Linked DNA regions of Homo sapiens: all the other regions are linked to region 4. The links come from fine-mapping of genetic effects on gene expression. A gene starts in region 4. Each other region holds a variant in brackets. All regions are shown on one strand. Distances are between the middles of the regions. Region 1 holds the start of LOC124902898. Region 2 overlaps BCAT1 (branched chain amino acid transaminase 1). Region 3 overlaps BCAT1 (branched chain amino acid transaminase 1). Region 4 holds the start of BCAT1 (branched chain amino acid transaminase 1).

Region 1 (7,509 bases), 45 kb before region 4:
TGAAAGTGATACCTAATTGATGGTGCCACTGCACTTCAGTCTGGGCAACAGAACAAGACTCTGTCTCAAAAAAAAGAAAAAGAAAGGAAAAGATTATTTAAATTTGAGTTGATATTTTTCTTTGCAAAGAATTCTTCAGGCTAGGCTTGGTGGCTCACGCCTGCAATCCCAGCACTTTGGGAGGTGGATTGCATGAGGCCAGGAGTTCGAGACCAGCCTGGCTAACATGGTGATAACCCCATCTCTACTAAAAATACAAAATTAGCTGGGCGTGATGGCACATGCCTGTAATCTCAGCTACTCAGGAGGCTGAGGCAGGAGAATCACTTGAACCTGGGAGGCAGAGATTGCAGTGAGCTGAGATCGTGCCACTGCACTCCAGCCTGGGTGACAGAGCGAGACCCTGTCTCAAAAAACAGAAAAGAAATTGCAATATTCTAATTTTGCTTTTTAAAAAATCCTTGCTAAGATGACAGCAAGAGAAGGAAAAAGAAAAATAAAATAAAAATTCCTTGCAAGTAGAGACCTAATCTTGAATTCACCTTTGGATGTCCAATGCATGGCACAGTCTCCAGCACACTGTGAGAGAGCTCAATGTGTGAGAAACTGATGAGTCAAGTTTCCTTCCCTCTCTGAACCGCCAGGATGTGAGATCATTAGGACACTCTGTGTCAATTGTCTGATGACAATTGACAGTGACTCAAACAGGCAGAAGAGCAGCACTAGGCATAAAAAGAAGAAGCTAAAACCTCCACGAGGAGGGAGGGTAGGAGATAGACTTATAGAAAAAATAATATTACATCTTACATTTGTATTTGTACAGTTTTCAACGTGCTTTGTTTCTCACTGTTTGAAGTATGAGCTATTTACTATATAAACCCCGCAATTCAGATAGAAAAGAAGAAAATGCAACACTTTCACTGTAGAGTGTTATGTGCTACTGAAAGAGAAAAATCACAGTTTAACTTTTTCTACAAGTAGACTGAAGGTTTGTACGTATTATGGAATCTGATAAACAACTAGTTTAATATTTACGCATTGACTATTTTTCAAGAAAAATATATGACTCAAAATAAAATCAGCAATTAGCTGCTAGATAATTTTTGTTGTGATGAATGTACTGTCACTCTCTAAATGGCTTTTTTTCCTCTAAGAGTGGAATTTTAAAAGTCTGGCAACACAACCTAGGAACTGGGTAACCCACACAGTGAAAATTTCCCCGAATCTCAACAAGAAATGGATTTATTCAGTTGAACGTTGCTTTAGACACTAAGCCTCTGGCAAGCAACTTACCTTAAAAGTCCCCACCACCTCTTTTGATCCTCCTTCTCCGGTACACTCTGCGGAGCATCCGTTACTGCAATCCTTAAAGAAGAATTAAACCACCATTAAGTAAATGCAGGTGGGTAAGCGGGACCCGGGGTAACCTACGTGACGCTCACCATGATACCGTGCGCTCCTCTCCAGGACCCAGGCAAACACAAAAAAGGAGGCTCAGACAACCAAGCACCCAGGCCCGAACCTCCAACAAGCGTGTCTTGGGAGCGCTGCCCTGCACTTCCCACCCTGCCGGGGTCGCGGCGGTTTTTGTCCTCCTCCGCCGGCTCAGGGAAGACTGGTTAAATTCCAGGTCAGCCCTACAGAGCCAGGGTTCGCCGGCAAAGAACAAAAAAACAATTGTCTCCCTTATATCCGAGCAAATAGTCTAGACTGGGGTGTTAAGCCATTTATAGAAAAATCTCCAGGGCGCGCTCAGCCTCGTGGTCTTGTCAATCACAGACGCACAATAGCAAGCCTGCAAAGGGAACGGGGACGGGCGTGAACCATTTCCTCCACCAGCAGGGTCCTCCGATGCCGCAGCATCCACCCCACACCTTAAACCTCATGGTATTAGTGGGCAATTTAAAAGATAAAGACACAGGGAAGCGGGACTAATTGGGAAAACCTGCAGACATTTGTTTTAATGCGTAATCTGCTAAATAACTACGGGGGTGGGGGTGGGGAAGGAAGAGATCCAAGGAGGCAGAAGGCTGCGGTCAAAATATTTTGGGGTGGCAGAGTCACGTAGGATGTGGCTGTGGGTTCTGGCAGCCCAGAGATTCAGCTCCCGCCTCCTCCCTCAGAGCGAGTCCATAGCTACCCTCACGTCCCCCGTGGCGGTCCTCGCCACGCTCCGGAGCGGGTTACCCATGAGGGTGCTAGACCTGGGCAGCGGGAACCTCGAAGAGGTGGAGATTGCAGGCTGGGACTCCAGATTTCGGGCAGGGATGCGGGGAAGGGAAGACGCCTCGCTGGAGGCGGAATGGAGGGCAAGGCGAAGGAGGATGGTGCAGGAAACGGCGACAAGGCGCCCGGCCAGGCCCGCGAGCTACCGAGACCCGGGTTCCAATCCTCCCCCCTTCCGCAAACGCCCGGGTTCGAGGTACCTGGCGGGCAAGGGCCGCAGCGGAGCGAAGCGGGCTGGCCATGGGGAGGCTGCGGGGACGCGGGGCTGCAGAGAGCGGCAGTGGCACGGAGCGCGCGGCTGGAAGCGAAAGCAGGCGGTGTGGCCAAGCCCCGGCGCACGGCCCATAGGGCGCTGGGTACCACGACCTGGGGCCGCGCGCCAGG[G/T]CCAGGCGCAGGGTACGACGCAACCCCTCCAGCATCCCTTGGGGAGGAGCCTCCAACCGTCTCGTCCCAGTCTGTCTGCAGTCGCTAAAACCGAAGCGGTTGTCCCTGTCACCGGGGTCGCTTGCGGAGGCCCGAGAATGCGCGCCACGAACGAGCGCCTTTCCAAGCGCAGATATTTCGCGAGCATCCTTGTTTATTAAACAACCTCTAGGTGAATGGCCGGGAAGCGCCCCTCGGTCAAGGCTAAGGAAACCTCGGAGAAACTACATTAGGGCAGCTTTTCCACCGACTCCAAATCCAACTGACAAAAAGCAGTTTCTGCCCTCGAGAGTTTGCGGGCGGGGATTGACATTTGTGCGTCTGCTCTTGTCTGCCACTGACCGCTATGTGCAAACTGAAGGGGGAGAACGTGAATCCAGCTTTTAGATTTCCCTGCGCCACCTACCCAAACCGAATTTGTAACTCGGGGTGTTATGGGGCTACCAGGCTCGCATTCCCTAAGGGCCATTTCTGCCCAAAGATCTCAATGCCTTTCATCGTTTTCAGGCAAAGCAGACCATCAAGAGCTCCAATCATACTGTTTTCATAGTTTTCCGATGTAGGCTCGTGATCGCAATATTTAGAAAGAGGACTGGAAAAGTGATGTTAGAAGTACTATTCGGTTTAGAAAGGGAAAGGAGGATTGGAATAGCTATTGTCTTATATGCAGTGTTCGCCTGGGGCAACGTCAGCCTAAATTATGAGCCTTCCTGGTTTTTAAATTAATAGGAAGTGGTAACTGGGGCTGACTTGATCTTGGAAAGAGGGGGAGGGCAGTTTATTCTGGGTGAAAGCGGTTAAATCCGGTTTGGTTTTTTAAATGGTTTCATACAACGCTACTGATAATATACTGTAGCTCTAATCTTATCAACTCAGAAAACCTACACTTTTCCTCTCCTTTATACAAGGCACAGAAAGGCCTCTTACGCTGGGGTGGGGTCCCAAGCTCCAAAGACCACAGAGTCCAGGCAGGTCACGTACCACCATAGAGCGGCGAGTGTCCCTGGAAGTCCAGGGTCGCTTATAAGATAAGTTTTGTCCTTGTTGTTTTGAGACGGAGTCTCGCTCTGTCGCCCAGGCTGGAGTGCAGTGGCGCGATCTCGTCTAATTGCAACATCCGCCTCCCCGGTTCAAGCAATTCTCCCATCTCAGCCTCCCCAGTAGCCGGGACTACAGGCCTGCGCCACCACGCCGGGCTAATTTTTGTATTTTTTGTAGAGACCGGGTTTTGCTATGTTGCCCAGGCTGCTCTCAAACTCCTGGACTCAAGCCACCCACCTATCTCAGCCTCCCAAAGTGCTAGGATTACAGGCGTGAGCCACGGCGCCCGGCCTCCATCTGTATTAACTGCTTCTATTTCCTCCCCATTAAGGGCTTCTGTCCAATTATTCCACCTAAATAAGGTCTCTAATAGCCTTCATTTTGTTCCTGCCAATGGTTTTGCTTCTCGTGCATTTTCATGGCTGCACCTATGTGCTGATGACTCCCAAATATATTTTTTCAGTCCATCTGTCTCCTGAGCAGTAGGTACTTGCTACTCAAAAATCTGTCTAAAATAAAAACGGTGTATCTATCCACCATGTTCGAAGCACTGGGCTAGTTGCTGGGGGAGGGTTGAGAGCATACCATCATCCTGTTATCATGCATTGCCCCCAGCCAGAGAGAAAAGTGTTAATTGTGTTAGAAAGTGTTAAGGAATCCCACAGACAGATGTAAAATTATAACAAGTGCTGCCTGTGCTCTAAGAGCCTCTAATAATGGATTGTATTGACTCAGAAAGGCCTGGAAAGGCTTTCAGCAAGTGATCCTTGAGCAGAAATCTGAAAGATTAAAGAAATTTACTAAAGGAAGAAGGGATGAAGAGCACCTGGTATGAAAGTGAGTTCCAGGACAAAAGAACTTCTCTGAGGAGGGCTGGAACAAAGGGCCAAAAGAGAGCCTGGGGCTGCGGTAGACAGAAGAGGATGGAGCTTGGGCTAGTGAGTAGCCAAAGGGCCAGCCAAGTAGTGCCTTAGGGAGAGCTAAAGAATAATTTTAAAAAGCAAAAATAAGGTAAAAGCCTGACTGTCATACAGGTATAAAATAAACTAAATTATAGAGTTTATTTAAATCATTTAATGAAGTTACCAGGCAGATATAAAAACTGGTTCAAAGAACAGGCATGTTTATAGGTCAGAAATATTGAAATGAATATGCAAATGAAATTGGCTTCTTCCACAGTAGGGGAGAGAAGTTAATTGAACCCTGACCTTCAGATTTTACTTGCATGACTGCATGCAATAATTATTTTGCATTTCTATCAGTCATCTGTAAAATAACTCAAAAACAATGAAACAATGTAAGACCCAATGAAAGGGCCCATGGAATCAGAATCAGATAACCTTAAAGGTTTGCTCTAAATAATTCAGTTTTCCATTGAAGTACAAATTTTTCCCTACAGTACGGTAATATAATTTCTTCATTCAAGAAGTGCTATTAGTCAGCAACAGCTGAAGTAAACCAGACATAGTAGTCACTGTACTTACTAGTTACACTAAGAAGCTGTAGCTTTAGCAGTTTTCAATTTAGCTTAACCTAGGGGCAAGAGAAACCATTGAAAGGTTAAGGATTAGGTGGAGTATGCAGGAGCGGTGACAGAATTGAAGGTATTGGCTGCAGTTTGGAGATTGGAAGAGGGTCTGGGTGGAGAGGAATGGATTTTGAAGAAGCTATTACAGAACCCACATACGAGATGATCCTTTTAATAAGTCAGATTTGGCTGGTGGTTGGTAATAGAAGTGGAGAGAAACAGCCAGATTTCAGCAAGAATGGAGATAAGGTGGCAGCCTGGGCAACATGGCAAAACCCTGTCTCTGGTAAAAATACAAAAATTAGCCGGGCTCGGTGGCATGTGCCTGTAGTCCCAGCTACTCACGGGATTAAGGTGAGAGGATTACCTGAACTTGGTGAGGTTGAGGCTGCAGTGGGCCAGGATCACACCACTGCACTTGCCTGGGTGACACAGTGAGACACCATCTCAAAAAAAAAGAAAAAGAAAAATAGATGATATAAGGTGGGACAAGGATGAGAGAAGTGCCAAGGAGGCCTCCTTGGATCTGACTTGCTTATCTATTTGGTGATGTTCACTAAGAAAAAAGGAATGTTGAAAAAGAATGTGTTTGAGGGGATGAGGAGGAGTCTGGTTTGGGACCTATGATTTCTGAAGTGTCTCCAAGACTGGCTGTGAGAGATCTGCCTGTCTGAAGCTCAGAGAAGAGGTCTGGATTAGAGGTATTATTGAATCATTGGCATAGAGGTGGTAACTGAAGCTATGGGTGCGAAAGAGAATCTCTATGTCAGTTTTCTCCGCTGTAAAATGAGACAATAGCAACACTTCATGTTTGTCAACTGGGATAGATGAGCATTAATATATGAAACTTATGTATATTACTTAGAACCATGCCTGATGTCAGCCATGCAGAATAGGTGAAAGAACGGGCATGGCTCTGTTTCCATTAAACTGTATTTGAAAAACGGGACAGAGCAAATGTGGTCTGTGGACTGTAAGTTGCTTACTCCTGCTCTATGTAGTTGCTCTAGTAGAAACATAGCAGTTGTCCCTCAAATGCATCCAAGTGATGATCACCAATGTCTATCCATTCTTGCTCCAAATACCCTGACAGTTGCCATTTCTCCAACCATGTTATCCGCATCCTAGTACCAAACAGCTTCCAAGCAGCTCCTCTGACCCCAGCCTTGCTTCTCTTTAAGCCATTCTTAGCATGACAACCAGTGAAAATGTCTCAAACGCAAATCTGAAGACATCTCCTCTTGGTCAAAAAACCTTCAAGGCTTCACATCACCCATTTGACAAAATGATTGGCAAGCTCCCAGCCCATCCCAGATTCTGCCTTCTGCCTCTGACTCTCCAGCTCACCTTTTGCTAGGCTCTTTCTTTCTCTCTCCCCCCACACATTTAATTTATTTCAGTCCTTTCGGACATCAGGCCTTCTCACAGGTGCCCAAATACCTGTAACATTCCCTGCCTTTGCCAGGCACTGTCATCCTTCCTTGTTCAGTCCCTGTGCCATGTCCTTGGCAGGAACGTCTCTGAACCCTGTCTAGGCTACAGTGGGTTCCTCTGCTGTTTATTTACATACAATGCTTGCCATTTCAAAATAATGGTAATATTTTATTCTAATCATTTGATTAATGCTCTTCTAATTTTATGATGGGAAGTTCATGTCTGTCAGGCCTCTGAGCCCAAGCTAATCCATCATATCCCCTGTGACCTGCACGTATACATCCAGATGGCCTGAAGCAACTGAAGATCAACAAAAGTGAAAATAGCAGGTTCCTGCCTTAACTGATGACATTCCACTGTTGTGATTTGTTCCTGCCCCACCCTAACCGATCAATTGACTTTGTGACAATACACCCTCCCTGCCCTTGCGATAATGTACTTTGTGATATTTCCCCACCCTTGTGAATGCACTTTGTATGATACACCCTCCCCACCCTTGAGAAGGTACTTTGTAATATCCTTCCCTGCCCTTAAGGTACTTTGTAATATTCTCCTCGCCCTTGAGAATGTACTTTGTAAGATCCATCCCCTGCCCACAAAAAATTGTTCCTACTCCACCGCCTATCCCAAACCTCTAAGAACTAATTATAATCCCACCACCCTTTGCTGACTCTCTTTTCAGACTCGGCCCGCCTGTACCCAGGTGATTAAAAAGCTTTATTGCTCACACAAAGCCTGTTTGGTGGTCTCTTCACACGAACACACATGACAATGCCTATATTATTCACCTAGCCATCCCACCTCACCCAGTGCCGGACATGCTGTGGAGAGTTAAAAATCTGTTGAACTGCAGCTCT
Region 2 (7,509 bases), 54 kb before region 4:
GGCCTCCCAAAGTGCTGGTATTACAGGCGTGAGCCACCTCGCCTGGCCGTTTTTTGTTTTGTTTTGTTTTGTTTTGTTTTGTTTTGTTTCAATAGAGTCAGGGTCTCATCATGTTGCAGCCCAGTAGGTCTCAGCCTTATTTTACCCAGCCCCTATTCAGGATGGAGTCACTCTGGTTTGAACGACTCTGACATTATCTACGTGGAAATAGCATCAGATCCCATGGGTGGAGGGCTCATTTCCCAAGAACCCCATCTCCCCGAAACTGCTGAAATTACAGATGTGAACCACCCCACCCAGCCTTCAAAGAGTTTTCAAAAACCAGTGACCACCAAAATCTTTTTTAACTTCCAAAAATGACATTAAATCATTTCTCATTTACTTCCCATAGGCCAGCAATTCCCAAAATGTGGTCCCTGGAGCGACAAAATTAACATGATCTGGACACTTGTTAGAAATGAGAAACTCTGGAGATGTAGCCAGCTGATTCTGATGCACATTAAGTTTGAGAACCAGTGACCTGGGCTTGGGCATATTATTCCTTTCAAATTTAAAAGCACATAGCCAGGAGCAGTGGCTCATGGCTGTCATCCCAGCACTTGAAGAAGCCAAGGCAAGAGGATTGCTTGAGCCCAGGAGTTTGAGACCAGCCTGGGCAACATGGCAAAACCCAGTCTCAACAAAATATGTAAAAATTAGCCAGACATGGTGACATGTGTCTGTGGTCCCAGCTACTCAGGAGGCTGAGGTACGAGGTTTGCTTGAGCCCAGGAGTTTGAGGCTGCAGTGAGCCACGATCGTGCCACTGCACTCCAGCCTGGGTGACAGAGCAAGAATCTGTCTGAAAAATAAATAAATAAAAGCACTTCATTTCACCTGTTCTTTATTATACCTTATGACATGGTGAGGGCTTGTGGCAAATAATGAAAGAACTCATTCAAATTGACATAACAGGAAGAGCTGGGAACAGAAACTTAGATTCCTAAATTCAACATTTTGTGGATACATATGGACAGTGAATATCTTTCCAAAATTATATGAATTTATAATTTTGAAGGAGTTAATTGCAAAAGCATCCTAGTAATTTTGGTGTATACATGTAGGGGCTATATAACAGAAAGAAGCTTCTCATTGGAACCTTAGCTCCACCCTTACTGCTGTGTAATATTAGTCAAGAAACAACTCTTCTGAGCCTCCTTTTATAATGGATGAGACCACTGCTTCAAGAGTTAATTATTATTGCTAACAACTGGGCTCTCGCTATGCACCAGATATGACTCTATATGCTTAGATAAATTACTTTATTTTATACTTATGAGATCACTGTAAGATAGATATTATAACTACCCCAATTTTATAGATAAAGAAATTAAAGCACAAATGATTAAATTCCTCAAGTCATAAAGGTTCCTATGGAGCAAATGAGACCGAATTTGAGCCCAGGATGTCTGACTTCAAAGCCTGAATGCTTAATCACATGCCTTCTCACTTAAGGTAATTAAATGAGATGATTCATATATGGAACATAATACAGAACGTATTGCAGGAATTCAGTAAACAAAAGTTGTTATTTTATCATTAATCTATTAATATTTTACTATTACCATATTTTAGCACTTAATAGGAAGACTATTATTATTTCCAGCACCCCTATTATTCTGGGAAAGATGTCCAAATCATTCAAAAGTAAAATACAATGAGAATCAAGACAATGGGAAGTATACTGTGCATCTGGTTAATTGTGCACCCTGAAAAGGACCAGAGAAAGAATTCTTTAAACATTTTATGCTTAAAATTATTTCAACTCATGGCTGAAGGAGGACATTTAATTACATGTCCCTTAACATGCATAACTAGACATTATTACTGGTCATAAAAATGTGGAGTTAGCATTAAAATCAAATCATAATATTGTTCTCAATGACCCTTTCTCAATTATTAGAAGATCTAAGAAGAAAGGTGACTTATTAAATTATCAACAGTGCTGGCTTTTTAATTGCCAATTTTCCCACCAGCTGTCCTTTCTATTTGCTTTAAATAATTTTTTTATTGACGTCACAGAAAATGCAAGATTATCTGAAAAATTAGCTGCTAAGATTTATCTTCAATCCAACTGTCTATAGGAAAACTTTTAAAGACATTTTCGGCTTCCTCTGGTAAATATGATAAAGCCCATACTGCCCAAGAGCTATTTTAGCAGGAGAAGCTACTTAGTACCCACAGTGAAGTGCAAGCATGTCACTCTCTTTAATTCCCATGTACTTACTTCCACTGCATAGTGCAAAGCTGATGAGCCAGGGTGCAATGACAGGTTCTGAAGAGGCTTGATATGAGGTTTCTCCCATCCAAACTCTGAGGACCACTCCACCGTCAGCATATGATCCGTGAACACAGTTCCAAAAACCAGATTATTGGGGTCTGGTTTTTCCTTTAAAATGGTAGCTGGTGTGACTATTAGGTCTTTAGCCTGGGGAAGAAAAATCATCACTATTTACAGAAAAGCTACTGAGCATTCGCTGGCTAGATTATACAGAGGGGAAAAAAAAAAAGGAAATCAATTGACTTTTAAAGGTTAGCAGCTAACACAGAAATTTAACACTCTGAGCTGAACAAATCATGCCTGCATTCAGAATTCGGCCAGTTATTCATAATCTCTGCAATGTACACTGCCTAATAGAATATCAGAACCAAATTTCAGTGATATATAGAAGAGGGACAAAATAGCAGATGGGGTAAGATGATGCAAAAAAAGAATACAACCCTTTTTCACTCTCACCATAGGACTCATGTTGAGTATTTGGGAAAGATGAAAGAGATGTTTTCCCTAATAAAAAATGGCAACACTCACAATGATTTGTTAAACTAAAATGAATGTCATTAAGTACTGAACTGCTATTTAGCAATGGTTACACTCCAACTGCCCCAAAGAATTGTTGGCATAAGCCTTCAAAATCCTCTGGGTGCACTGGAGAAGAAATGAGCAAAGTGAAGCAAATGTTTTCCTCTTTGAAAACAGGAAAGTTGAGAATGAACACTAAGATATAAATCCTCTGTTCTGTGTGGAGGAAACAGTGAACAAAGGAACTCTTATTTAAACAAAGATAAATCAGAGTAATAGGAAACAACTCCCCACAAGCAGCATCTCACCAGCTCCCGACATAGCCAGTTTGCCCACTGCAAATGGCCAAACATTAAGCGTACAAATTGCATGCGATACCACCACTAACTTTATAGCATCTGTGGAATGCTGACAAAAACACAGGAGACCAGCACTTTGGGAAGCCGAGGCATGCAGATCACAAGGTTTGGAGATTGAGACCATCCTAGCTAACATGGTGAAACCCCGTCTCTACTAAAAATACTAAAAATTAGCCAGGCGTGGTGGCATGCACCTGTAGTCGCAGCTACTCAGGAGGCTGAGGCAGGAAAATCACTTGAACCCGGGAGGCGGAGGTTGCAGAGAGTCAAGATCGCACCACTGCACTCCAGCCTGGGAGACAGAGCAAGACTCTGTCTCAGAAAAAAAAAAAAGAAAAGAAAAGAAGAGAAAAGAGAAGAAAAAAAGAAACACAAGAGAAGGAACTTTTTGATCAGTTAAAAAAACAGGGGCAAGTTCAACCTGTAACAGGTTGTGAAGGGATGTCAAACTCCATCTCTTTGAATATACAAAAAAAGTCTTTTCCCTCCCAAATTAAATACAGACCTTCACTTTACATCATCAGCTCTTATCATTATTTTTAAAATGATCTAATTCTGTTTAATTCACTGCCTTGCAGCTACGTGAGTCATTTGATATATTATGAATGATAGTAAATTGTATTTTTAGAATAATATTCAGGCTGAAAACATATTCCAAAACAAACAGAAAGCTCATATTACAGTGACACAAAAGGCATTAAGGACAGAATATTACTGTAATGTTCAGGCTAGTCTAGTAATGCTACTTTGTAATATGCCAATAAAATGCCAAGTTTCAATAAAAAATTGACTTTGTTCTACCATTATTATTATTATTTTGTATTTTTTTTAGAGATAGGGACTCACTATGTTGCCCAGGCTGGTCTCGAACTCCTGGGCTTAAGCAATCTGCCTGCCTCGACCTCCCAAAGTTCTAAGATTACAGGCATGAGCCACTGTGCCCAGCCTGTTTTACCACTATTTAATTCAAGTAAAAACGTTAATTTAAGACTTTTTACTAAGTATAATAAGTTTATTTAAAGAAATATATTCCAGCTAAATTATTTTTATCTTTGAATCCCTTTTCTCTCCCGTTGTCCTCTGGACTAGGTAGGGGGTCAGGCAGACTTTACTTGCAGACCAAATGCAGCCAGCTGGCCTGTTTTGAAATTAAAATGTTATTGGAACATAGTCACGCCATTCTTGTATCTTCAGTGGCAGCACAGCCAACTAGTTGTAACAGAAACCTGATGGCCCTCAAGCCTAAAATATTTATCATCTAGCCATTTAAGAAAGTTTAGCAGGCCGGGCACAGTGGCACACCCTGAATCCCAACACTTTGGGAGGCCGAGGCGGGTGGATCACCAAAGGTCAGGAGTTTGAGATCAACCTGGCAAACAGCACAACCCTGTCTCTACTAAAAATACAAAAATTAACTGAGTGTAGTGGTGGGCGCCTGTAATCCCAGCTACTTGGGAGGCTGAGGCAGGAGAACTGCTTGAACCTGGGAGGCAGAGGTTGCAGTCAGCAGAGACACACCAGTGCACTCCAGCCTGGGCAATAAGAGTGGAACTCCATCTCAAAAAAAAAGAAAGAAAGTTTAGCAACCCCTATTCTGGACTATTTAGACAAGAAGTCTGGCTAGAGTATTCACAGTTGAATTCCAAAGCTAACACAGTGCCTAGCACACAGAATAGTAAAGGGTTTCTTAAATACTGAAGATGTCTGGCTGCTTTCAGATACACTCACAGAAGATGTCCAGGATTTAAAGAGAGTGAAATTCTAACACAAACTTTTTATTACATGAATAGTTTCACAGTATTCTTGCACAATAAACACCTGTGATTTACCTTAGTTAGCTTTTATCAGTGAATGGGGAGGACCCTGGGCTAAGAAACATTTGGAGCCATATCAATACAGTACGACAAACTTAATGCAAATTTTCTTCTACTAAGACTACTTAGTAAAAGGGGAAGGGTAGTAAAACACAAAACAAAAACAGAAAGATGAGAGTGGGTGACAAGAATGATTATGATCCAGTATATATAATTTTTAGTTTTCTGAGACCTCTCCTTAAAATACCCATAGGACCCACAATAACCCACTAATCCAGAGAGATCAAATTAGCGGCAAAGCAGGGATAGAATAAGGTAATTTTTAACCTCAAATAAGTGTTCTTATAATTAGAACTTCATAATATCAGTTAAATTTCTGACAATTAAAGATAAATTATTACATTTCTAGGTATGACTTCTATTTCAGTAAACTGCTACATTCTTTCGTAAGACACATTATTTCTTAATGATATGAATAGCAACCTCTAACTTTCTGATTTGTACCTAAGCACTGCCCT[G/A]TATCCAGTTTTGTTTTGTTTTGCTTTTTCTTTTAGATGGAGTCTCACTCTGTCACCCAGGCGGAAGAGCAGTGATGTGATCTGGGCTCACTGCAACCTCCGCCTCCCAGGTTCAAGTGATTCTCCTGCTTCAGCCTCCTGAGTAGCTGGGACTACAGGCATGTGCCACAACACCCGGCTAAGTTTTGTATTTTTGGTAGAGATGGGGTTTCACCATGTTGACCAGGCTGGTCTCGAACTCCTGACCTCAGGTGACCCACCCACCTCGGCCTCTGAAAGTGCTGGGATTACAGGTGTGAGCTACCGCGCCCGGCATATATCCAGTTTTTCAAAGTAATATACGATTAGGTGGCTTCAGAATCTCATCATGAACTTTTCTCTACTTGAAAAAAAAATTCTGCAACTCTGAAAACTAAAAATAACAACTTTTAACCTGAGCTCAAAGAGAAATTACCTAAGAATACTAAATTACTAGGTGATAGAATTGAATAAAGTTCAAACGTAAACAAGCAATATTAGCTGAAGACATGTGACTCGTTTGGGGCAGATATGAAATGTAGTTTTAAGGGAACGATTTGTTTCCTAAAGGAAACAAATTTTATAAACAATTTTTATCAGTGTTCTTTAAAAAGTATTTTCTTTTTCTAGATTTCCTTTCCAAAGATAAATAAAAATAATATTTTGTCAAATGATACTTTCTTCTGCATAATTAATCTGTCTCTTTCCAATGCTCCACATTCCCTGATGACATCGAAGTCAGGATGTTTCACATCATATGTTTGTGGAAGAATTGGAATGCCACAATAACTGATTGTGAAATGGCAAGAAATATTGAGAAAAACAGGGCATATTAAAAACAACTTCCTAATTCAAAGTTTGCAGTTGGGTAATCATTTGTTCTGAAATAGGGAGGCTCAGGGCAGGGAAGTGTAAATTTGTTGAAAGCACCTGAAAACTGTTTCAGCCAGGGTTCAGTCAACACTTTTTTTTTTTTTTTTTTTTTTTTTTGCTCTGTTGCCCAGGCTGGAGTGCAGTGGCACAATCTCGGCTCGCTGCAACCTCCGCCTCCCCGGTTCAAGCAAGTCTCAAGCCTCAGCCTCCCAGGTAGCTGGGATTACAGGCATGTGTCATCGCACCTGGCTAATTTTTGTATTTTTAATACAAACAGGGTTTCACCATGTTGGCCAGGCTAGTCTCAAACTCCTGACCTCAAATGATCCACCCACCTCAGCCTCCCAAAGTGCTGGGATTACAGGGGTGAGTCACCATGCCAGGCCTGTCAACACCTTTTGCTCACCATCGTATAGCACATTTGCTCTTCTCTTCATTGGCCACATTTTTCAAAAATCAAGTCTGTATTACAACTGTATCAGACATTTAATAACTTTATTCTAGGTTCTTGTGCATTATTCTTACTCCATTTGGAAAGCCTTAGGCACTATGTTCATCTTTTGGAGATACTCTTTTAAAATCTAATAAAGAGGATCATGAAGAGAACTGCAGATTTGCAGTGTTGCATTCTGTGGAGATATGTGAAGCTGGAGGAATTGGAAGAAATAGATGGCTGACCTCTTGCAAATGAAGAGGATCCTAGAGTCCACAGAAAGATTCGCCAGGATGTGTAACAACGTATCTCATTGCTAGGCCCTGCTGCAAAACTGCATCCTCATGTAATATGACTGCATCATAAATGGGGAGGGGAGAAGAAATACGAAAACTACCCAAGAGAGACCCAAAAGGCCATATGAAATGTTATAAATGATGTAGATTAACAAAAAGGTAGAGAAATATGTCAAAAGCAACCACAGTTAGAATGGTTATTATTAGAAAGACAAAAAATAACAGATGCTGATGAGGATACAGAGAAAAGAGAACGCTTATACACTGTTGGTAAGAATGTAAATTAGTTTATCTACTGTGGAAAATGGTATGAAGCTTTCCAAAAAAAAAACTAAAAGTAGAATGACCATATAAACCAA
Region 3 (7,509 bases), 78 kb before region 4:
ATATTTATAAGACTATTAAACAAAAGCAAGTCAATGTTTTCTTGCAAAGCAACAACCAAGCCCTCTAATGAAACCCACAATAGGAAGAAACCTTTAAAAAGATAAAGCTGGCTGGTGGCTCACACCTGTAATCCCAGCACTTTGGGAGGCTGAGTGGGGCAGATCACCTGAGGTCAGGAGTTCAAGACAAGCCTGACCAACATGGTGAAACCCCATCTCTACAAAAAATACAAAAAGTAGCCGAGCATGGTGGCACATGCCTGTAATCCCAGCTACTCAGGAGGCTGAGGCAGGAGAATCGCTTGAACCTGGGAGACAGAGGTTGCAGTGAGCCGAGATTGCACCACTGCACTCCAGCCTGGGAAACAGAGCAAGACTCCGTCTCAATAAACAAAAACAAAAAGAAGATAAAGCAGTGTTAGCATTTGTTACAAAATTACATGCAAAAATAAAAATGCCTATCACGAGCCAAGCAATGCAACTCATGGCAGGAGAAATGGCAGATTCCCTCAGAAAACGTACACCTCAAAGAAATAAGAGGCTAGTATAACTAACTCATGAATCACTCAGGATGATCAGGGAAGTACTGCGTTGCAGTTTGATTCTCCATCTCAGTGTATAAAATAATGTTACATCTTGTAATTTATGACATTCTATATTAAATTCAGTACGGTACATATGTCCAATGGATACCCCACATCTAGGAAAATGGAAAAAAAAATAGGGGTGTATCCGTATGTGCCAAAATGAAAAGATCTCCAAGACAAATTTTAAGTGCAAAAAACAATAATACAAACAAAATTGTTCATAGTATCACCACTATTTATATTTTTTAAAAAGGAAGGTACAGATAGAGAGCCCCAAAATATTCTTCATCTATGGAAACATGACATATCAAAACTGGCACTGTAATCAGTGAGGAAAGGATAGACCACTCAATAAATGGTGATGGGACAACTTGGTCTCCGTGCAGAAAAATAAAAGAAATTGTATATGTTACTTGATAACAAAGTTCACTTTCATATGGATTTCATTTAAATGAAAAAAAGCAAAACTTTAAAAGAATGTTCTTGGAGTAAGAATTTATTTAACCTGTATGACCTTGGAGTAACAAAAAATTTCTTTAAAATGCATAAAAAGTATAAAACATAAAGAAAACTTTAACTACTTTAAAACTAAGTACTTCTGTTCATCAAAAGATATCAGTAAGAAAGTGACAAAGCAAGACACAGACACAGAAGCTAGCCACAGACTGGGAAACTATTTGCAGTACGTTTATCCAACATAGGATTTGCCATAGACTAGGAAGTTATTTGTGATATATGTATCAAAGGATTTATACCTAGAATATACAAAGATGCAAAAAATTAAAAAGACAAAAGACTTGCAAAGGCACTTCACAAGAGGACTTCTGTAGCTGGTAAACCTATGAAAAGGTACTCAACATAATTGGTTCTCAGGGAAATTAAACCACAAATAACACAAGACTGTATACATTAGAATGAGGAAAGTTAATAAGACAGTATCAGTATTGGCAAAGAAATGAAGCAAATACATACACCACTGATGGGAGAGTAAACTGGTATAAGCACTTTGGGAGTTTGGCAGTGAGACAGCCAAGTGGGAAGAAGACCCCAGAGAAACTCCAACCGGCCTGCACACTGGGAGGAGTGCACACTGGGGAGCCACAGACGGTCACACCATTCACAGTGGGGAGGAGCCTGGCCCCTCCTCTTCCTGGGTGGTACCTGGGATTCAATCTGCAAGGCAGGAAGCATGCTAGCAGGACCCTGGCTTTGTGGGGAGTCCCTGTTTCCCTTTTTTCCCAATAAGTTCCATTATTCTCACCTTTCAAATTGTCTGCGAGCCTAATTTTTCATGGCCTTGGGACAAGGACCCCATCTTTAGCTAAACTAAGGAGAAAGTCCTACAACAGCAGTATCTACTAAAGTGAAATATACATACACCCTGTGACCCAGCACTTCAACTCCTAGGTAAATACCAAAGAGAAGCAACTACATATGTCTGCCAAAATGTCCATCTGCAGTAAAAGAGAATACCATACCAGATGGGAGATGGGGGGACATAAAGAAGGAAGTGCTATAACCTCCAACGTGGTTGACTCTATTGGAGAGGGAACGGAGGCAAAGGAGAAAGGTACACAAAGGCTTTCCATTGAACCCATCATGCTCTCATCTTAACCATGTGCTGGGTCCTTAGATTTTCACTTTCACTCTTTTCTTTAAATTGTATGTTTATAGGTGTGTAATTTGTTTTAAAATTTTTGAGTAGTGGCAGAAACAGGACAAAGAATCACTGCCAATTTTGTAAAAAGAGAGATAATGTACAAACACATGTAAGGGTGTGTGTGTGTGTGTGTATATATGTGTGTGTGTGTGTGTGTGTATTTCTGAAAGGGTATAAGAAAAGCTGGCAATAGGAATTGCTTGGAAGGAGATGAATTGTAGAACCCTGGATGGAAATGAGAGTGTGAGAGTGAAAAGGAAACTTCCCATCTATTGTATACCTTTGGTTCTACTTGAATTTTTTACCAGATAATTTCTCTGCCAAAATGAAAATGAATAGTCCTAAACTTAGAAGCATTGTAATTGAACTTGAGACTTAATTGGCTGTGTGTATGTATGTATATGTGTATGTTATATGATATATATACATGTTATAAAATACATAATACAATATATAAAATCTGGTTAAATACATCAAATATAGTTGAGAGCAAGAAAGCTGATAGCTCAGAAAAGAAAAAAGTAGAGATGAAAGTAGACATAGTAGAATGAGATGGGAAAGAACTTAGTCGCCCCCATTGGGGCTATGTTTCCATGCTAACCATTCCCACTTCTTCACAGCAGTGACCGCCATCAATATGCACTCATTTAGTGGGTTTATATTATGAAAGTCTGACCCCCTGCCAGACACTGAGCTCTGTGAAAGCAAGAAGATAGTTTTTGCTCAGCACAGTATCCCTAGACTTAGTGCAGGGACTGACACATAAAAGATGTTGCGGGATGGAGGTTAAGAGAATACAGGCTCTTATTTCACCGCTTTGGACCTTACTTTCACATCCCTAAAATACTGCATAAGCACCTGCTCACAAGATTGTTATCAGGCCAAGCTCAGTGGCTCTTGCCTGCAATTCCAGCACTTTGGGAGGTCAAGTGGATCACCTGAGGTCAGGATTTCAAGACCAGCCTGGCCAACATGGTGAAACCCCATCTCTACTAAAAATACAAAAATTAGCCAGGTGTAGTGGTGCACGCCTGTAGTCCCAGCTACTGGGGAGGCTGAGGCAGGAGAATCGCTTGAATTTGGGAGGTGGAGGTTGCAGTGAGCTGAGATCACACAACTGCACTCCAGCCTGGGCAACAGAGCAAGACTCTGTCTCAAAAAAAGAAAAAAAAAAGATTGTTATCAGAGTTAGTGCATGGAAAGCACTGAGTACAGTGCCTGACAAGTGGGGTCACTTCTGATGCCAGACGACAGTGATGAGAACAGATCAAATGCCAATTTCGCCAAGGAGACCAGGCCATTCCCGAAAAGTAGCAGTACCTTCTTGGGGTGGAAGTGTAAGATGGGCCT[G/A]GGCCTTTTGCTGGGATATAATCACTTTCAATAATTCCTTGGGTTGTATGATTTTCCAGCTGTTCACTGGAGCATTGTGTGAGGTAGCAGGGAACTGGGATTCCAGTTAGGGAATTGGGATACAATGTGGAAGATGCCTCGCATCATGAACTATGCAACAGTTAGAAATGATGGACTTGATGTACACATAGTAGACTGGATAGAAATGGAACACACAGTGCTGGGCGAAAAAGAGAAGAAACACAATGAAATCTGTAGGACAAAGTCTCTTACATAAATTAAAATTACATGTATAAAAAGCGATGAGATTTTTAAAAACACATATAAGCCAGAATAATATTAATTTGATTCCTGAGAATTATTTCTAGTGGAGAGAGAGGAAATGAGAGTGGTGAATGAAGATAGAAGGGAATAAAACAAAGACAGGGACCTTATATGCCCCATGATGGAAGTACCATGAATCAGGAGCATAATTAATAACCTGGTGTACCTAAACTCCAAAGAGTAAAAAACATCCCCTGTGACAAGTTGAAATGAGCAAGAACAGCCTCAAGATGATACTCACTGGTAAGAGTGGCCAGATAATAATAAGCTGATTATAACAGGCTAAAATCAAGGCAAATAGACTGTATCTCTAAAAACAGACTCGATGTCTTAAGACACTAAAAACGGAGCTGTTAATATAAAATATATTGAGTTATGCAAATAAAACTGAATATTGTTTATAAACAGTGGAATATATATATATGTATATGTATTTCACATAGGACTATGAAAAAGAACACATTAAATGTATAGACAGTACCCAAATTAATGATTTATAAATTGCTGCTGTGCTAACTAGTCTTTAAATCTTTCAGATTCTTCTGTTCATAGAAACTAATTGTAAAGTAAAGGAAAAAGATGATCAGATGTATAAGCACAAATAGAGGCAGTGAATAAGGAAAATATTTTTCATGGGAATTGATATGATTACAGGCTGAATTGTATGTTCAATCTTAAGATTTAACAAGGTGATAAAAGGAAAAGAAAGGCATGTCTATGAAACGCACATGTCCTTAAGCTCCCTGTGGAGTGAACCAGAAATGAAGGAGTGAATCATTTGAGACAGACAAATCTCATCTCCAGCCTTTCTTCTGCCCACTCACAAAATGGCAGCAGGGTTTTAAAATGGGAGTTCTAATGAACATTTCATAATGTAAGATTTCCCAGGAAGTTGCAAATGGGGAAACTGCTTATGAGAGATGATTAAAATGTTGCTCTACATTATTCAAATTATATTGTGTGCATCCAATGCTGGTATTAACTAAATGCAGACAGCTTCTTTCTAGTTGAGCTCAACTCCAGAGATGTACTTACAGACAATCTAAGTGTAGGAGGATAAAGTTTACTGAAAAAGAGGAATTAATTAATTTCTGCATTAGCCAAAGTCAGCTTGTCTTTGAGTACATTTGAAAAAGTCACATCTGCAGGTAGCCTGCAAATCTGTGGTGGACAGCCTGGGATCTGGTCACAGTCCTGGTTGGGCTAACTCCTGACAGTTTCCAGGGCTGTCTCTAGCATCACAGATTCGACCCTTTTCAAAGACACTTATTCTCAGCCCTGGTATAGTTCAGTATTGTCTCACTCTACCACCTCCCAAATGGAGAGAGTGGGTGGGATGAAATGGGACTGACATATGCCTAAAAAGTGGAAGGCTAAGAGCAACAATCAAATGGAATTTCAGAGCTTGTGGTTGTGCATATTTCTGCTATTGACTATGGTCAAGACACCTCTACACTTACCAGAATCCCCGAGGAAATAAAGGTCTGGGTCTGTGTGTCCACATGTGTTTGTACCACTGTACCTGCATGGAGTTACTCAACAGGACGAGGTTAAAATCAGCAAAACCTGGCTTCCTTGGATGTAGTGTTGTTAAGTATCCAATATTGAACATGACAGTCATATAATTTTAGTTTCTTGTCTAGTAAAGTGAAAACTTAGAAATCATTCATGTAAATGTTTTTATTTAAATATTATGATCTGAGATTTTCTCTTAATTCCCAACTGATATGTAATCAGCAGTAGTTTAGAGCCCTCCAGACTGTAGTTTCTCTTTTAGATTTAACAACCCATAAATAAATACTTTAGGAGATACTGATTAAAATGCTGCTATAATCCTTTTTATAAATATGAGAAATCTTTTGGTAATGTGAATGATTTTACTCTCTAAACTTTTTACAAGAAGTTTATATAACATAATATCCAACAAAGTACATGGATTTAAATATTTGTGTACCATACTGATGCTATACATTCAGGTCAGTGATTATCCTGTATTATGTATTTATGTATTATAGGCTATACCTTATCCAAAAAGCTTCAGTCCAAAAAGCTTGGACTATCCCTTATCCACAAAGCTTCTGACCAAAACTGTTTTTGATTTAGGATTTTTTTCAGATTTTGGATTAATCTGCATTATGCTTACCAATTCAGCATCCCTAATCTGAAAAAATGAAATCTGAAATGCTCCAATGAGCATTTTTAGTCATGTCAGTGCTCAAAAAGTTTCAGATTTTGGAGTATTCTGAATTTCAGGTTGTTGTTTTCTTCAAATTTCCATGCACTGGTAGCCTGGTATTTTTAATTGCCAATCCCTACTCACTGGTTATATATGAACAGTTAATTAAACATGTTTCAATAATACACACTTCCATTTATTATCATCATAAATCTATAAGGATTTTAGTAATTGATTTAATTATTTATCATGAGGAACTGCACAAAAACATTAGTACAACAAGTATGTATCTATGAAGATTATTAAAAATGAAGGAGGCCGGGCATGGTGGCTCATGCCTGTAATCCAGCACTTTGGGAGGCCGAGGTGGGCAGAACACCTGAGGTCAGGAGTTTGGGACCAGCCTGGCCAACATGGTGAAACCCCGTCTCTACTAAAAGTACAAAAATTAGCTGGGCATGGTGGCACGCACCTGTAGTCCCCGCTAATCAGGAGGCTGAGGCAGGAGAATCACTTGAACCTGGGAAGCAGAGGTTGCAATGAGCCAAGATTGCACCATTGCACTCCAGCCTGGGCAACCAAGCGAGACTCTATCTCAAAAATAAAATAAAACAAAATAAAAATGAAGGATCAGTTAATTATAAAACATGTAAAGAGACAGAGCTTGGCAAACATAATGAAATATTTTAAGTCCATCCAATAGCAGAGCCACTCCCTAATTATATGGCAGTGACTGAATCTTATTTTATGTGAAAAACAATAATATTAGACTGTTATATCAGGGCCTATGGAAGTGAACTCAACACTGCCATTAGGATGAAGTTTAGCTTTCAATTATATAAATATTTCCACTTTGGTGCCATTAAAAGTTCAGCTTTCAATGACTTAAAGCACTGAAATTACTGGCAGACATATATTTCATTCCTTAACAAGGTTTGGGATGGTGAGTCCTTTAAAAGTGGTTATGAAATCTCTGGAGAGTTTGTTGAATGCAGAGTCTCTGATCCTGGCTCTAGAAATTTCGATTTGGGTCTGGGCTGGGGCCCAACACCAATGTGTCCATTGTAGAATCCTCAATGTTCTATAAACACAGCAACTACCATACCAGGGAATAGAGACTGGACACAAGTGATCAACTAGGTGTCTATAAAACCTAATACAGTAGCCTAACATAGATTTATTCATTCAAAGAAATCAAAATATCTCTTGGACATAAGACCCAGTTAATCTAACTATGAAAAGGACATGAAATAAAAACATATAGAAGTCAGCCAAAAGCAAGACAGGACCAAAAAAAAAAAAAAAATCACATAACTGACAGAGTTGAGCTTGCAATTATACTATGAAGACAATGACAGGATAGGCCCATCATAGAAACATGCAACATAAAAAGATAAGTAAAGCTAGTCATC
Region 4 (7,509 bases):
GGCACAATTATGTCTATCATGGAAGGTCCCAGATTCTCACTCTCCAGTATAGCAACCAAACCTTCCTGAGCATAAGGCTGATCATGCCACTGGGTTTCCCTGGGGTGGGCATCTGTTATTTAAAGAAACTGTGGTTACCAACACTAAAGGGAAATAAAGAAAGTTCTTTATTTTCCAACTTCCTATACCAGTTGAGAAGAGGCCATTTAAAGAAGCTGGCAACCTGAAACCCCAAAAGATGTAACTAATACAAAGGCTCAACATAGCTGCCATTTAGAAACAATCTTTCATTTATGCACAGGAATAATTTACTCATAAGCCCAGCCCTCTCAGTTAGGTTAATAACACCACTATCAGTTTTCCAGCTGTTTACTTCCCTAGCTTTATTTCTAGACATGAGAAATAAGGAACAAAATATATAATTAGGAAAACAATTGGAATGTCAGCCTACGGACAAAACTGAGACAAAATTTATATAAGTAGAGAGTATATTGAGGTCAAATTTGAGGACTGCAACCAACGAAACACCAAATCAAGTTGCCCTGAATATATACAGCAGTTACAAGTGGGTTTTTAAAAGAAAAAAGAGGCAGTTTCTAAGTTGAGAAGAATTTATATTAAAATAACATAAACTATATAAACTATTGATAGGCTAAACATTGTTTTTTTGTATCACAAATTCCAGGAACATAATGAGTGAGGCAGTTAGTCAGGAACAAAATGTCTTTAAATAATTACTCCTGCGCATGCGTACGGGGGGACGTGACTGAAGTCTCACACTCCTATCTCTCTGGGCCTGATAAATTGTGTAGCCTTCACAAAGCTCAGATCGCTCTGCGCTATTTTTCTTTTTTCAGGGAGTTGCACAGCTACTGACAGAAAGCACATCTTGGTTTTAGTCCATAGTACAAAACTCAATTGTGATCGAATGTTTTCAACTTCCTTTCATAATAAGGTTTTAAACTCATTTCAAATAATTAGATCTGGTTCTAATGAGCTGAAAAGCAAGAGAAATTCTTGCGTAAAAAAGGAAAAATATTTTTCCCCTTTTCTCTCTGTAGTTCTGAAATCCAGTGAAATTACTCATTACTGAAACTTATCAGATGAAAATATTGGCCAGCATTAAATTCTTTTCCTCCCCAACCCCCACCTCTTTTTTTCCTTTTTCTAACCACCACCCTTTTGTTAGGCCAGCTTAACTAGCTTTACATCTCTGAGCCTAGCCTGAGGGGCCACATCCTGTGTCTGGAATGTAAAACCTCTCTCCCCACTAGGCCTCCCGTCTTCCCTCCACACACACACACACACACACACACACACACACACACACACACACGGACTTCCCTTGCCTCCAATCCCATTTACATGTGTATCATTTTTAAATCCCCATCTAAATTTATTAAGTCATAATACTCACTTACCATTTTTGTACACATGCTACTCAGTGTATATCCTATGTTTCTTATCCAAGTTGCCCATTCTGCATGTGTCTGTCTTAAAATACAAGCTCATGCATGACTTAAGCCCGGAGAATTTGCTGAGGACAAAGGCAATCAAGATGCCATGTGCAAATAACATTTTTTTAAAAAATCAAGCTTGTGATAGCAATACATATTTAAGAGATAAGTGGAAAGATGTTTGAAATATTGTGATAAAACTAACTTAATGGAACCTTCCATACTTCTTCGATCATACCTAGAATACAATCATTTCTTTCTTAATCTTAGGAAATATCAGGAAACAGAAAAGAGACTACTTGTAGATATCTTACCTAGTTCCCCATGTTATAAAAGTATCTTGTGGAAGGGACAGGGGTTTTTGGACCTACAAAAACGCGTAATTAACCACAACTGCACATGGACAGGAAAAAGCTGGAAAAGCAAGACTGTTCATTCTTAGTTTTCTCCTTTTACTTACTAAAGCTATAATCAACTAAAGTGTGTTTTTCATCTGAAATGAAACAAGCATGAGGAAGCCAGAAATAGAACCTCTAACTATAGAAGAAAAGTTGTGTGATCTCTGTTGAATACAAAAACGCATAGTTTCCACTCGGTTACTGTTTAATTGTAGTGAAAGTTTTTGTTTGGCAACAAAGGCGCTATTTACATATTATTTCTTCTAAGTGAAACTATGGTCTGGGATGGGTTGTAGATAAGAGCAGTTGAGAACCACGCTTCATCTCCCTCCTTAGAAACTCTGAAACGAGGCTTTATTCCTACCAGAAGTTCAGATTGCATTATGGTCATCTCAATTCCAAAATGTTAGATGGCAAGAATATCTGCCCATCCTTCACTTTCCTTGGAAAAAGTTGCTCTTCGGGTTTTATATGCGATTGCAGTTTTCCAGTGTGTGAAACTAGGAAAACAAAACACTCAACGGTGTACATCCCTACACCTAAATAGTCAGAAATAATAGGCAGCTAGGCTAATTATCCTTGATTAGCAAGATCAGAGCCATTAGGGTGCTCACTGGTTTAACAAATGAATGCCCTTAGGCGTCTATCATTTGTAACTCCTAGAAGCTTTAATTTCCACAAGAAACAAAATAAGAGGGGCCTTCTGCTTTTAACAGTGAAAAGATCGTTCTCCCTCCCCTCTCCACCCGGGTCAACTCTTCCAGCCGCTCCCTCCTGCATCACGAACACACGCTGCAGGAAAGCGCATTTACAGCCCGGGACATCCCCAGACCTCCTCTCCAAAATTCCCCACCTCCTGTGCATAGGAGAAACTGAGAGAAGCCCTCACTTCCTTTCCAAACTTCACAAGCAGGGGAGGGAGCTGTAGCAGACTTTCACCTCCGTTCCCAAAAGCGAATGTGAAAAAGTCCGAGAAGGCACGTCCTGCGAGTGGAGGTTAAACCGAAATCTGAACAGAATGCACGGTCCCCGCAAACTACGATTGATAAAGAAGATACTGAGACGTTTGCGGGGGATATAAGCCATGGTTGTCTCGCCTTCCTCCCCTCCCTGCCAACTATGTTTCTTGGAGAAATCGCCGGTTCGATTCACGCACACATTTTTGTAAAACACGGACAAAACCATAAGTAGTTACCTTCATTGTTCCGTCGGCCACGAGGGAAGCTCGAGCTGAGCGGAGGGCAGATCCCAAGGGTCGTAGCCCCTGGCCGTGTGGACCGGGTCTGCGGCTGCAGAGCGCGGTCCCGGCTGCAGCAAGACCTGGGGCAGTGCCCGAGGCGGCGGCGAGTACACGTGGCGGGCTGGATTGCAGACCGGCCCTCTCGCGGCGGAGACTCGCGACCTAGCGGATTGCATCAGCAGGAAGACACTAAGGCTGCTCCCCCAGGCCGCCCCCAGATGGTGGAGTCTCTCCCAGCCCGAAGATTCGGAGCCAGCGCCCAGACCCGAGCCTCACTCACTGCTCACTCCCGGGGTGCAGGGCAGAGGTGCCAGTGTTGCAAGCAAATGACACGGTTACCCCCGAATCAGCCACTGTGGGTGCGTATCCGAGTGTGGGGATGCCCGTGTAACATTTATATGGAGACGTCAAGGAGGAGGAAATAAACAGATCAGAGGTCAAATGTGATTGCCATTCCGTCATCACTGGCTCCTGCCCACCTCCCTACTGTCCCCAAAGTAACTTTGCTGCATGCTGAGAGGACCACGGCACAATCCTGCCCAAAAGTATACATGTATCCCCCGCGGCTACTTTAAATGTACTTTTGCAGTAGTCAAGAACATGTGCCTGGTTTGCCGATCTCTTTCCCAGAGTTCCTTAGTCACCCTCAAATATAACCATTTTTGCCAATTTATTATGTACATGGGGGAAAATTTTTAATCCTTTAATTTGAGCATATAAAATTCTTTATAATGTGAAATTGCCCAGTAGCCTAGTTGGTCCCCTGTAAGTTCCCTCCCCACATCTATACAAAGCTCCAGGATTGCTACTTTTCCATGTCCAGCGCCTAGGTCAGCCTCCATGACTGCTTAAGTGTGCTGCTGGTTGACCTCCGCTGCCTCTCTGTCAAGCTGGCAAACTCCTATTTTTGTAAATTTCAACCCAAGTCTTTGCTGTGGAAGTTGCTTCCAATGCCCTCAAACAGAACTGGGCCCTTGGTCTATGTGCTGCACTTTGTCCACATCCTTTCTCAAAATCAATTATTTTATTTTATCATTTTTTAATGGAGATGGGGTCTCACTAAATTGGCCAAGCTGGTCTTGAACTCCTGGCCTCAGCAATCCCCTCGCCTCCGCCTCCCAAATTGCTGGGATTACAGATGTGAGACTGTGCCCAGCTTCTTAATTTTACTTTAATTATTTGTTTGCACAGTTGTCACTTCAGTGGATTATGAGATTCGTAAGGGCAGATCCTTTGTCATATTTATCTCCCATACCAAGTGGCCTGCCGTGGAAGAGAGGGAGTGTTGAAAACAAATGTGTCAGTGCTTAATGACTGTTGGTCAGGTGAATGAATGGTTAAATTATGTGTTCAATAAATGTACTGAGTGATTTCTACATGCTAGGCTGGTATATAACAGTGGTTTGTAATCTGAAATGTCTCAAAATGGAGCCATTTATGACAAGGGTTTCAGCCTCCAGTGAAATTGCTGACCCCTCAAATTGATAAGCATATGTATGGTGGACTGAGGTGATAAGATAACACCTGCTGTGGCCTGGCACCATTGGCAAGAGAGTAAAGAGAGAGGCAGCTGAGATAATGGCTATGGGCACTTGCGGATGCTGTGAAAACCAAAAAGTAATGAAAACCTGAAAGTAACTGACCACAGCCAAAATGCTTGCAGAAGTTCTGCCCTGAGAAATCTGTATCTGTAAGCATTTAATCAGCCATTGAGTCCTTGTGAAACCTCCTGGCCCCCGTCAGTGAAAGCACAGCTAGATAGATTTGAACCTGACACTGACATGAGACAGGCAATGTGCAAAATGCTAGGGACTGAGTGGGAAACAACAAAAATGTTCTTACCCTCATTAAGCTCATATACTAGTGTGAGAAACAGAAAGTAAGCTTTAAATCAGGTAGCAAAATGTTTATCAACTGAGGAATGGCTAAATAAAACATGGTATCATCCATACAATGGAATATTATTATATTCTGCAATAAAAAGAAATGAAGTACTGATTACATGCAGTCACATGGATGAACCTTGAAAACTATGCAAAGTGAAAGAAGCGTCTCACAAATGACTACATATTATATGATTCCACTTATCTGAAATGTGCAGAACAGGAAAATCCATAGAGACAGAAAACACATAGTTGTTTTCAATCTGGGGACAGGGTGGAATGCAGAGTGAATGTTCATGGGCGTTGGATTTCTTTTTGAATTGATTAAAATGTTCTCAAATTAGATTGTGGTAATGGTTACACAACCCTGTGAACACACTAAAAACCACTGAATTATACCCTTTAAATAGGTGAATTGTATGTTATGTGAATTATATCTCAATAAAGATGTTACTCTATGGCCCGGCATGGTGGCTCACACCTGTAATCTCAGCACTTTGGGAGGCTGAGGCAGACAGATCACTTGAGGTCGGGAGTTCGAGACCAGCCTGGCCAACATGGTGAAACCCCGTCTCTACTAAAAATTAGCCGGGCGTGGTTGCGGGGTGCCTGTAATCCCAGCTACTCACAAGGCTGAGTCACAAGAATCGCTTGAACCTGGGAGGCAGAGAGGTTGCTGTGAGCCAAGATCATGCCACTGCATTCCAGCCTGGGCAATAGAGCAAGACTCAGTCTCAAAAAAAAAAAAAAAAAAAAAAAAACAGGTACCATGTGGTAAATTTTATGAGAAAGAGTAATAAGGGGATAGAGAGTGATGGGGTCATAGATATAAATGCATTAATAAGTTCTAGAGCAAGCCTGGCAATTACTCCTAGATCCAACGACCGCCCCTCGCCCCCCTCTCCCTCAATGCAGGATTTTTCTCAGTCCCTTTGCCAGTCAAGGACCTCTAGCCGGCAATGCCGGAGGCCTAGCTCGGGGCATACTACCTGCTGCAGGAGGCACCCCACGCAATTTGCCCGCCTGAGACAAGTTTGCCTTGCACATTGGTTCCTGAGTTCTTGCCCCATGCCCAAGAAAAATGAAGATGTGCTGACAATTGAAGAGTGAGCAAGGCGGGGAGTTTTACTGAGGGATGAAACAGCTTTCAGCAGAGAGGGAAGCGGGGGTGGTCCCCCTACCCGAAGGCAGGAAAGTCTCCTCCATGAGGCTGAGTCCTGGGGCTTTTTATCGGCTCAGAATAGGGGAGGGGCAGGCAAACAGGAACAGAAATTCTCACTCTGCGTCATGGATTTCATCCAGGACCAGCAGTCTGGTCTTTCAGCCTTCAGGCTGTTTTTGGCTTGAAGGTACAGTTTCACCTCCAACCCTGTTGCTGTTACCCCTACTTAAGGATTCTTTTGATGTTAGCAACAAAGGAAGAGAGAAGGTAGTATATATTTAAAAAAAAAAAAAAAAAAAGAGCTTGAAGGGAAGTGAGAAAGTTAGGGAATTAACATCCACAGAAGAATATGAGGGCCGGGCGTTCACGCCTATAATCCCAGCACTTTGGGACGTCAAAGCAGGAGTTCAAGACCAGCCTGGGCAACATAGCAAAAGCCAGTCTTTACAAAAAATGCAAAAATTAGCTGTTTGTGGTGGTATGTGCCTGCAGTCTAAGCTACTCCCAAGGCTGAGGTGGAAGGATCACTGGAGCCCAGGAGATCCAGGCTGCAGTGAGCTGTGATCACTTCATACTTCACTGCACTCCAGCCTGGGTGACAGAGTGAGACATCATCTCCAAAAAAAAAAAAAAAAAAAGAAAAAAAAAGAATATAAGAACAATCTAGCTATGTCTCTCCTCCCATTTCCCTTTAGTGTTGATAGAAGGGCCCCACAGTTCTCCCTCATTGTCAACTGTAAACTCCCAAAGCTTCTCTCCCAGACAACACACATGCTTTTCCCAAATGATGAGGCTCATGATCAACGAAGGTTGTTACTCTGACAGTGGCACTGTACTTCAAACAAGTCACAGTAAAAGATATTTAAGGAAAACTGGATCCAAACTGGATATATACCATATACCCATCTATGGGCAGTGTCTTTTACTGAAGAAGAGACAGCATTTCTAAGATTTCTAATAGACACTAATTTTGAGGTTGACTCCAGAGCGCCAGACAGTCCAGCTTCATTTTGTCCTCACTGTTATTAACAAAGGCTTTTATTGCCATCATTATGAAAAATATGTGCCAACTACCTGCAGAATGTCTTCCCTGTATCTTACTAAATTTTCTCTAGGAAAGCAGAAACTCACAAATATTCTCTGCCTTGAGTTATTAACAGTTCCTGGAATTTGAATAGGAGAGTTTACATAAGGCAATGATACTCTGTCTTAAAAGAGGAAAATCTACTCTAAAATTCTACTCTACACACTCAGAAAACAATGTCATTCTCTTTCTCTATTTCTCATAGTAAAAAATACTTCAAAATTGTACTGTTTTTATATTTCCTATAATACTTGCATTCATTGCCCATTACATACATGTGCACAC

Evidence for each region.
Region 1: its variant is fine-mapped to the expression of BCAT1 in whole blood (INTERVAL, PIP above 0.99).
Region 2: its variant is fine-mapped to the expression of BCAT1 in whole blood (TOPMed, PIP 0.97).
Region 3: its variant is fine-mapped to the expression of BCAT1 in whole blood (TOPMed, PIP 0.97).

What each region holds. Positions count from the first base shown.
Region 1 is chr12:24,900,521-24,908,029 of GRCh38, forward strand. It overlaps BCAT1 (branched chain amino acid transaminase 1), which reads right to left. Exons shown (of 11, transcript NM_005504.7): 2 at 1,294-1,365. It overlaps LOC124902898, which reads left to right and starts at 1,450. Exons shown (of 1, transcript XM_047429951.1): 1 at 1,450-7,385. The coding sequence starts at 2,070. The coding sequence ends at 2,810. RefSeq lists enhancers at 2,009-2,510, 4,005-4,727. The variant G/T (reference allele first, on the strand shown) is at 2,611.
Region 2 is chr12:24,892,009-24,899,517 of GRCh38, forward strand. BCAT1 (branched chain amino acid transaminase 1) reads right to left here. Exons shown (of 11, transcript NM_005504.7): 3 at 2,267-2,467. Among named protein-coding and RNA genes, the nearest start is that of BCAT1, 53 kb to the right of the region's middle. The variant G/A (reference allele first, on the strand shown) is at 5,531.
Region 3 is chr12:24,867,620-24,875,128 of GRCh38, forward strand. All of the region lies in intron 5 of BCAT1 (branched chain amino acid transaminase 1), which reads right to left. Among named protein-coding and RNA genes, the nearest start is that of BCAT1-AS1, 52 kb to the left of the region's middle. The variant G/A (reference allele first, on the strand shown) is at 3,598.
Region 4 is chr12:24,945,877-24,953,385 of GRCh38, forward strand. BCAT1 (branched chain amino acid transaminase 1) reads right to left here and starts at 3,225. Exons shown (of 11, transcript NM_005504.7): 1 at 3,051-3,225. The coding sequence starts at 3,056. BCAT1-DT (BCAT1 divergent transcript) reads left to right here and starts at 3,287. Exons shown (of 3, transcript NR_199054.1): 1 at 3,287-3,454. RefSeq lists enhancers at 3,119-3,468, 3,589-3,678, 5,959-6,028, 6,409-6,478.